Linked DNA regions of Homo sapiens: region 2 is linked to region 1. The links come from fine-mapping of genetic effects on gene expression. A gene starts in region 1. The other region holds a variant in brackets. All regions are shown on one strand. Distances are from middle to middle.

Region 1 (5,382 bases):
GTTTCACATCACTAAATCTCAGTAAGCTAGAAAATCCAATTAACTATAATACCCCCATTTGCCAGCACTGTACTTAATCCAAATTTTACTGATTGTCGATCAAAACCTTGAAATTATTTAAATATAAGGAACTTTTAGATTAATGTCCTTGGTTTCTTACTGAGACTCAATTGCAATGAATTATTTAACACAAAACTGGAGGGGCTCCAGCAGAATCATTAGCATTAGTAAATATATAGTTAATGTGTTTTAGAACACGGCTTAATGGACTCCAGAACCCGCCTCTGCGACGGTTTGGGTCAGGGTTGAAACATCCTCGTTAATAATGCACACGACTCAACATTTCCCTCTCTCACACTCTTCTTGGCTTCAAACTTCATCTTAATGCAGGGACTCTCCACATGTATCCCTAATTCTGAAGAGTGAAATTAATATCCAATACATGCAATAAATAAAACTAAAGATTGGTTTCATACCATAACTTTACAGTCATCTGGGGAAAGATTTTGCATACCAACACAAAATTTTAAGTCGAAAGACAAAAAAAAAAAAAAAAACTTGGCTAAATTTCGATCCATTGTACTCTCTCACTTGAAGAAAGTTTGCATATCTTACAATGAATGGGTGGAAGGATATCTGTAACACTCATGTGCATCCCAGGGTTTTATTTTAAGGAATTAAGTACCTTTATGTTTAATTTCCATTAACACTTTCGTTAACATGGATGACATTTAAAACAAGTGAAACAAAGACTAGGCAGCTTCCTAGGGACTCGCAGGGGTTATCTTTTGTGTCTATAGCATTCTCTTGCTCAGGGCAGTTACATGTTATTAGTGAAAGTTGTGACAGTAGGGGAGGCAGCTAACTCTTCAGGTTAAAAGGGGTTTTCTATGCCCAGTACTCAAAATCTAACAAACCCATTCCACGTGATACTGCTGTCACCCTATTACAACCTGTGACATGCATTTATTCGTCACTGTCCTAAACACTGTTGGTCAGTTGGTTTGTTGTTTGGTTTAAAGACAACAGCCCCTGAGCTCTATTAAATGGAACAAGTTCGAGAGACATTCCTAAATGTCCAGACAACTCCACAGCGCGCATTTCTCTCCAGCAGCGGGAAGATTCAGAGACCTCGAGACTGAACACCCAAATCTCGCTTTCCAGGACCCGAAGTACCGAACAATAGGTCCCAAGGTAACTGTCCCACTTCCCTTTAGGTTGGATACGTTAAACAATACCAGGGCACAGTCTAACGTTTCACCAATTTCCAAAGCTAAATTACTGACTAAACGCCCAATATCCAAGCCTGTGCGCAAAAAATAACAAGTGGCCCAAGCAGCCGCGCAGCCCCTTGCGCGGTGGGGGCCGAGGGGTCCCCTCGCCCGTCCCCCACGCGCGCGAAAGGGCGAGCACTAGTGGCGGAGGAGGGGAGAACCCATATTGTAGGCTTGAGAGAATCTACAAATGAACCCCCAGATCCTGAGGAAGAGGGGTCTCTTTCCTTTACGTCCTTGCCCTCCCCCGGGTCCCTAGCACTGTGCCCTCGATCCCCGCCTACAACGCACCCCACGCCAGCCCCGCTGGCAGCTGCATGGCTGGTGCCAGGAACGCGGCGGGGGCGCAGGCCGAGGGGAGCGGGCGCTGGGGGGGCCGGGGGCAGCGCGCTACTCACCAATGCGACTGAAACTCTCCGACAAAGTTCTCCGCAACTTCTTCATCTTGCCGATCTTCTCGGCCGGCTGCGGCTCAATGAGGTCACACATCTGGGCGACGCGGAGCCCCGACAACTTCCCCAAACTGGTCCAGGCACAGCTCAGACAACGGCGAGGGCGCGCGCCGCGGGGAAAGCGGCGCCTCCTCCTCCACCACCTCCTCGGCGGGCCGGGAAGCGACGCGCAGGTCTAGGGAGGCGAGCAGCAGGCAGGCGGAGGACGGCAGGCTCCGCTCCGGCCTGGGCCGCAGCTGGGCGGGCGGGGGCGGTTTACGTGGTGCCGGGGGCGGCCGCGCTCGCCGCCGCCGTGGTGGCCCCGCGCCGCGCCGCCGCCGCCCGGCTCATTTTCCCTCCTTTGTAACGGAGAGAAGCGCGGCCGGCAGGGGGAGTGGTGCGGCCGAAGGAGGAGGCGGGGCGGGCCGGGTACAAGGTGCGGGAGTCGCCTGGCGCCGAGTGCGCGGGGCGAGGGCGAGTGGGCCGGCGGGAGAAGTTCTCAGCCCAGAGTTGCGGGCGCAGCGCAGAAGGAGCCGCGGCGCGGAACCGCCAGCCTGACAGCTCCTGCTGCCCTCCTGCTGCCGCCGCCACGCCCCTCCCTCGACGAAGGCCCCTGGGCGCGGGATCCTAGCACGACCTCGGCTCCCCGCTCGCCTCCCGCGTCCTCCGCGGCCCTCTGTGTCTGGCTCGCGCCCCGGCGGCGCCCCCTCCCGGCCGCGCCCCTCCCGGCCGCCCCCGCGCTCCTCCCCCGCCCCGCCCGCGCGCGGGAGGATCACGAAGGGACCGGGGTGGGAGCGGGCAGCGTCTGGGGACAGCGTGTTGGGCTGTGGGGAGGTTACCGAAAGGAAACGGGCCGAGTCCAGTTGTTTGAGCGGTTTTCTCCTTCCACGAGCGTGTGTGAAAAAGCGCGGAGTTCGGTGGAGGGCAGCTGCCAGGACTGCCTCCTGGACTGGGTGCGGTAAGGCCTTAGGGATGCATTCAGATGTAGGGTGCCTTATTTTGGGCCGAGAAAGCTGTCAAGTGAAAGATCCAAGGGGAAAGGTGGGCCTGGATTTTTTTGTTGTTGTTTGCGGTGGGTTTTTTGTTTGTTTTGAGGTCAAGTGCAGAAGCAGCGGAAGCTTCAACTGTAACCCTCCAGAAGGCAGGGATCATGCTGTTTCCCTCATCCTTGTCTCTGATCTTGGTGACACATGTAGGTGATTTCTGATAGGAATACCCAGTTCTGCAGTAAATAGCAGACACAGCCCTTGGTCTTTTTCTATTAAATTCTTAGAATATATTTCTGAATTGGGAGATTTAAAGGCTAAACAGATTCCGACCTCCTTTTCCCCCACCTCAAAAACAGAACTTTAAAAAGGAGTGGGGGAGGTGTTTATAAAATCCCAGGACAAACAGTTCCAGCAGCGAACACACATCGTCTTCATTCTGAAAAAACCTGGTGCGGCGTGAGTTCCAAACGTCAGTCTCCCAGGGGAGAGAGAAGGAAGGTGGGGGAGGGCTTGATTGTGTTGATCTGAGGCCAGCAAACTCCTTATGAATAGAAACGTTAGTAATCTTGAGTCATTTGGCTGTGTAAGTAATAAGAGCTTGTGAGGGTGTGACAATGCTGTTTGGCTTGTAGGAAATTTTGGGGAGTTTATGTTTTGTTAAAAGATTTTTATCTTAAAAACTAGCCCCCTGCCTTCCTTAAATTGTGAGGTAAAACAGTGATTTGTTCCGCCCTACACTGAGCACATTGTAGGATCTTGATAGATTGCGGATGATAAAAGACAGGAAGTCAAGCTAAGTGGGGAGCAGAGGGGGGCAAGGAATTCGCCAGGAAAGACCATATGAGTTAAAACGCAAAGCTGTTGGATCCTGGCTGCCATGTCTAGATAATTACAGACAGCACCAAGGGTGGCCTCATACCGGAAAAAAGTTTGACTTTTACCACTTCCTCAGGTTAGTTAGGGAGAAAGTTTTCAGCAGTTATGAATGAAAAGACAAATGCAACCAATCAAAACACTAATGGGTTGTACGAGTCAACAAACACGAAGAAATATTAATTTAACGAACTTTCACTATTATACACCTGTGACTGTTATCCACTGTGACAATGGCTGTTTCAAATATATAATATGTTAAATATATGTTTATTTTACCTTCGCAGTATTTTTTTTTTTTTTTCCGAGACAGGGCCTGTCGCCCAGGCTGGAGTGCAGTGGCGCCATCTCGGCTGACTGCAACCTTCTCTCCTGGGCTCAAGCCATCCTCCCACCTCAGCCTCCTAAATAGCTGGGACTACGGGTGCGCACCACCACGCCTGGCTAATTTTTGTAGAAACGGGGTTTCATCATGTTACCGACGCTGGTCTCCTACTCTTGAGCTCAAGCAATCCGCCCGCCTTGACCTCCCAAAGTTCTGGGATTACAGGCGTGCACCACCACCATGCTCTTCCCCTTCCCAGTATTTCTGACTTAAAAAAAGTAGTCAGCTTCTTCTTAAATTATGGTAAAAGCATACAAAGGTATGCACCAATTTTCTTAAATGAGATCAGTGTGTACTGATGTGTGAATATGTACAGGCTAATTTGGGAGAAAAGCATGTTTAATATTTTAAACCATTTGTGGAAAAAATGTATACACATCTATGTGTTCCTATATGCATAGAATATTTCTGGAAAAAAGAACAGAAAACTGTTGATTGTATATCCAGAACAGAGAGAACTTTTCCCTTTGCAATTTATACCTTTAAGTATAGTTTGAATGTTCTAAGAATGCTTTACTTTTATAATAATAAAAATACTAATATAAACATAATGAATATTTTCCTTTTCCCTACCCCACTTCAAAACTTCAGCTCTCCCAACTCCAGAACAACTTCCTCTAGTTACAACAGTATACCTGGCAGGAGAAACACCTGTTAAGCCTGGGCCAAATAAAGCTTGGCAATTATGAGTAACCAACTTTCCATTATATGCTCATCTTGCTCCCTTTCCTGGTTATATTTTAAAAGAGCAAATTTTGCAAGAAACTGCAATGCAAAGAAGGACATTTTTAACTTGACGCTTTTAAGATATGTATACTTATTCAACTCTTTCTACTATTATTTGTTTCACATTTGCCTTCATCTTAAACAGTGTAAGTTCAGGGACCCTAAGATATGAAACACACAGTGCCTGTTGCATAGAGAATGTAAATTAATGTTTGTCAAATAAATATAGAATGGATTGCTATCTCTGAGAAGTGATGTGTTGTCCTTGGAAACAAAGATGACTATCCAGCATCTGTGTAGCATGTTTTTTCAGTAGGAGAATGGATCTGTGCCAGTTCTCCATCTCAACTTCTGGTTTACAAGGTTATAGTTTTGCATGGCCTGAATTAAAGGTGCAGTGTTCAAGTACAAAGAGATAAGCTTATCTAGAGGCTGAACCCAACATGGGTTGACCTTAACCAAATTCACCAATTAAAGGATACAAGTGTATTGGAGTTCAGTAGTAACAAAAGTGGCTGGGGACCCAGGACTCATGAGTTCTAGTCCCTACTGTCTATCACTAGGTGCATTGTAGCCTTAGACAAGTAAGTGATTTACCTATTTTCTTATCTATAAAATGAGGGGCTTGAACTAGATAACCTCTAGGTCCATTCATAGCTGCAAAATTCTAATTCTAAAGTTAATGGTGAGCCAGAAGCAATTAC
Region 2 (5,382 bases), 27 kb after region 1:
ATGTCCTGCAGGTAAAGAAGAACTTTATGATGTATATTTTAAAAGTATATAATGGACAGCCTGATGGCTATACTTAATATTATACATTGATAATTTGTTAAGAGTAGATTTTAGGTGCTCATATCACACACACAACACACACACAAACAAACACACACACACAAAAGGTAACTATGGAAGGTGATGGATATGTTAATTTGTTTGACTGTAGTAATCATTTCACTGGATATATGTATGTCCAAACATCATGCTATATACCATAAATACATACAATAAAAAATAAATTAGAAAGTAGGATAAGGCATCAAATTGCTATACTATTTAGATCTCACCGTATAGATATCAACGAATAATGTGATATTTATTTTTTAGATGTCATTAGTTATATCAGAAATTATATATATGTAAGTATATACAACTCTTGGTAAAAGAGTTGTATATAAAAAATTTTATATTATAAAATTTTAATGTAAAATTAAAATGATAAATTTTATGCATCAATTTTAAAATATATTACTTTTTAAGATATTTTAGGACTGCATGTGTGAAAATATCTGGAGACAATGAACAGAGAAAATTAAACATTAGACAAGAAAACGATCAAAGAAAGAACAGACCCACTGTTGAGATTGACTATGCAATGCAATATGGTGACAAAGGAGCTGTCTACTCACATTTGATTTTGTGCCCTTTATCAAAGAGAAAGATCAGAATGATTGAATGAACATTGGCAAAAGGGAAGAGAAGTTCAAGATGGAAAAAGAAATTGTAACAGAAATTGTACCCATCTCCCTTGGGAACCAGCAGAGGGGAGTGAGAATAGCAAGGATTTGAGTCAGACAAAATTGACTCAGAATTCTGACACTGCCAGTTAATATCTATGTGCCCCTGGACAAGATGCTTCACTCACCTAATCTGTATTATGGACATAATGTGATTTACAACGGAGGGTAAAATTTCCTAATGGATCTAAAGTGCTTTGCATAGGGTCAAGCTCTGCAAAACATAAATAGTGGCTTTTGTAATTATCATGTAGCTGTAGACTTTGGAGCAATTTAACCTCCTTGAGCTTCACCTTCCTCCTCTATAATGCAGGAATAATAACATCTACCTCCTAGGATTACTGTGAGGATTAAATTGACAATAAATATTTATAACACAAAGAAGGCATTCAATAAATATTAGTTCTGGCCAGGTGAGGTGGCTCATGCCTGTAATCCCAGCACTTTAGGAGGCCAAGGTGGGCAGATCACAAAGTCAGAAGTTCGAGACCAGCCTGGCCAATATGGTGAAACCCTGTCTCTACTAAGAATACAGAAAAATTTAGCCGGACGTGGTGGCACATGCCTGTAATCCCAGCTACTTGGAAGGCTGAGGCAGGAGAATTGCTTGAACCCAGGAGGTGGAGGTTGCAGTGAGCTGAGATCGGGCCGCTGCACTCCAGCCTGGGTGACAAAGCAAGACTCCATCTCAAAAAAATAAAGATTAGTTTTTTCCCCAACCCCTTCCTTCTCTATTTTCCTATTGATTTGGACAATTCTATGGTATCCTTGATGGGATATGATGAAAAAGAGACTAATTCCAAATGCCTATTTATGGAATAGTAATATATTACTTTTATTATGTCTACTAGTAAAAAAACTAAACCCGAAATGATTATTTTTGATGAGACAAGTGGCGAGGGTCTCATACTAAGAGTGAATCTATCCTTGTAGACATGACATTTCTGCTTTACTAGCAAATCTCATTAATGACAAAATTATGTTCATGAAATTGAGGAAGACAAATATGCTGCTGATCTATGACCATGTAATCAGTCCTCTCACAAAGAGGACCTCCTCACAAAGAAAATAATTCTTCCTACATGTTTCCTTTTCTCCTACAAGTGAAAAGATAAAGCATTTATCAATTGGTGGGAATAAATGCTGTTAATTAATGTGAGTCACTTACTTTAGAGGGTACAAAGCATGCCCTCTTTTTGTAGCTTTGCATACAAAACAAAACATAGTTTCAGATGAGCTTGGATGCCCAGGAGGAAGTTAGGGAACCAAGCTTCACTGAACAGGCAGGGAATATGTTTAAGGCTACTTCCGCCATTTTAATCTGTAGGTCAATGTTCATTAATTTCTTTTTAGAAACAAGCTGTCAAGTTGCTGGTCCCTGTTGAGGACAGGGGTATGATGAATAGTCAAAATGCATAAGCAGGCCTTCTATCAGCCAAGATCCCAGCAGGAAGCAAATGACACACTCCAAAGGGGTGAAAAAATTATTGTTGAAGCTAGATACTGGGTACGTGGACGTCTGTTATACTATTAACTATTTATGTTTGAAATTGTCCATAATAAAATATACACAAACAAACAGAGCAGTGTAAAAGAGAGACTAATGAAAGAATAACTTACACAGATGTGGACAGAGGTTAAAGGAAAATAACAAGGGAAGGTGAAATCTACTTCCCTTCTCTGGTGACGCCCCCGCACACCCCACCTACCCTCAGGAGTGCTACCCACAGTACGGAGTGCTACCAGGAGTAGGCTTGAAGAACAAAGGAAAAGGGGGCAACTCCTGGAGCCCAGGGAGACCTGTAGCTGCAGGACATGGCCACCCATCAGGAATTGTGGACTTCGGTGGAAGAAAGAGTCACTATTAACCAAAGCCCACTATATAATTTGAGCAGCCCAGTGCAAGTTGAAAAAAGCAAGAAAAAAGTGTGGTAAAGGTACTAAAGTATAAAGTTTTGCTTTCCTTCTGCCGTCTCTTTTTCTTTCCTCAACTTGTCATGTTTCTAAAATTTTGTATCTAACACTATTCTAAATAAAGAGAACATTGAAACTGCTGGTGAAAAAATATAAAACAAAAAAAAGAAAAAAGAAAACATTAAAACTTTAAATTATTAGCCTGAATTCTACCATTTATCTTGTGCAATGCCAATTTTAAATGCCATTATAAGGGCATTTAACTATCATGCAGAATCATGAAAATTATACACTTACATTTCATAGTTTGTACATATATACATATTTTGTTCCTAGTGAAACAGTGGAAATAGTGCACAAAACTAACTCGACTGTTTCATTTCACTTTCTTATACTCATACAGTATTCCAACACTCTACTTTCAGCTTACGGATGAGGAAGGAA[A/G]GACTGAAAGGAAAAGGAACTATGGCTTGCCCTATCTTCCCCTTTCCTTCTATGACATCATTTTTAGTGTAAGTGGTTAGGAAGTAACAGAGAAGTAACATGAGAAAGAAACGATATGATGAGGCTCCTTGGTTGTATGTGTTTCTCAAATTTCATTGCCTTTTTTCTGAATTTTAAGCAAGTTGTGGTTGAAATAGAAAGCATGACATCTCGGGGCTTTATCAGCTGGACCTTGTACTTGCTTTGAGTCTCCCTGAATTCCTTATGTAGTGCATGGGTACATAGGCATTCTATGATCGTGGGGACACCGTAAATACTATATTCAAACGGAGCAACTGGAAATTGCAGACACATATATTTCATGTAACCCCTCTGTTCACATATATGCTCCACTTTCCCTTTGATTTCACTTACAAAACACACATTCAAAGATAAAATGACATACCTCAGCATCACACAATATACCCTTATAATGAACCTGTACCTGTACCCCCTGAATCTAAAATAACAGTTGAAATTTTTTTAAAAATATAAAATGAAGAATTTAAGACCGTGACAGAAAAGCATTAAACCAAGCACAGGGCCCTTCTTAAGAATGGGGTTCTATTGACTCCATAGTTTGCACACCCATGAGGCCCACCCTGCTGCCAACCCATTGTCAGAGAAATCAACACTCTCCTCCAGTCCTCCCATCCCCTGCAGATGATCTGGCCAATATGGTGAAACCCTGTCTCTACTAAAAATACAGATCTCACTGATGGACCACAACCTGATGGCAAGGGAGCCAGGGAAGCATCCACAGAGAGTAGCCACCTGGGCGACAGACTAGGGAGAGAAGAGCGAAGAGTAGGTCTGGAGGGGCAAACAGAATATGCAGCACCAGCTGCTAGCCCCCACATCAATTTCCAACAAATTCTATTCTTTTGTAATCCAGCTAGGATAATAAGGGGCAGGTAGACCTCAGGAGTGGGGCCTGGTGCATATGCAGTTATGAGCCACTTCAAAATAAATAAATACATAAATTAATTAAACCACAAATATCAATTAGGCATGAAACTGATTATTAATTCAGATTGAGAAAAGAAATCAGTTAGTCTCTTTCTTCTGAGGTCTCTAGGAAATTTAACAGAAATGCCTATACAATTCTGTTTTCTAATTGCATGCTGGCTTCCCCTCCTCACGTGGAATACTTTACAACTCCAAGCAACTCCCACCACTCACAGAGGCCTGGGGAAATGAGGAGTCCTGAAGCTTAAATGTTATTAGCTTTATGGTAAATTCCTCTGTAGACCCAAAAACTAAGAACATAAGAACATAGTATTAAGTAACTGTGGAGAAGCAGGCATTCCCTAACAGGTTGTGATGTGCCCCCTTTCCCTACCGTGCATACCAAAGGCAGTGAACCACATTTCGGGCTCTTCTGACCTAGCATTGTTTCACTGCAGTTAGGAAGTTCCATTGAATTTCACTACATAGGGAACTGGTAAGGTAATGGATAGTCATGGCCACTCCTTTGCATTCTTGATGTCTTGTCTATTCCCTGCATTGCTTGCTGGGTTGGAATCAGGCAAAAGGCAAGCTACCTTAGAAGTCACTGTTCTCATTCACCCTGAAATCCTGGCCAGATTTTGTGCTCTGGCCTAATCAACAGGTTTCTATTTAGACATAAAATATGACTGAGCTTATCTCATAATAGCTGTGGCACAGTGGAGGCAGTTTAGATTCGGAAAAAAGAAGGAAAAGGTCAGTTAAACGGGAGGGCTGCCCTGGATGGAGTTCCATGATAGGACTTAGGAGCCCCAGACACCAGAGCCACAGCCCATGAGAGGAGGGAAAATGGTGGACAGAGACAAAAGAAGGGGATGACAGATATGTACAGGGAAATGGAAAGGTGTTAAAGAAAGACTTCAAACTTTGCCCAAGGCCCTAGTGTTGGTGAACTCACTGCTTGCATTTGATAAATATGGGGAAAGCTGCTGGTATCTGAACTAAGAACATGTCTTATTCTATTTGGGCTGCTATAACAACACCGTAGACTGGGTGGCTAAAACTACAGGTATCTATTTCTCACAGTTCTGGAGGCTGGAAAGTCCAAGATTAAGATACCAGCAGATCCGGCCAGGCACAGTGGCTCACGCCTGTAATCCCAGCACTTTGGAAGGCTGAGGCGGAAGGATCACTTGAAGTCAGGAGTTTGAGACCAGCCTGAGCAACCTGATGAAAACCCATCTCTACAAAAAAT

Evidence for each region. PIP is the estimated chance that this variant, and not a neighbour inherited with it, causes the effect.
Region 2: its variant is the best candidate, but not a certain one, in a credible set for the expression of CDK14 in whole blood (TOPMed, PIP 0.67).

What each region holds. Positions count from the first base shown.
Region 1 is chr7:90,593,009-90,598,390 of GRCh38, reverse strand. It overlaps CDK14 (cyclin dependent kinase 14), which reads right to left and starts at 2,070. Exons shown (of 15, transcript NM_001287135.2): 1 at 1,673-2,070. The coding sequence starts at 1,763. RefSeq lists silencers at 1,433-1,482, 1,543-1,742, 1,933-2,242, 2,263-2,462.
Region 2 is chr7:90,566,249-90,571,630 of GRCh38, reverse strand. No RefSeq gene overlaps it. Among named protein-coding and RNA genes, the nearest start is that of CDK14, 27 kb to the left of the region's middle. The variant A/G (reference allele first, on the strand shown) is at 3,141.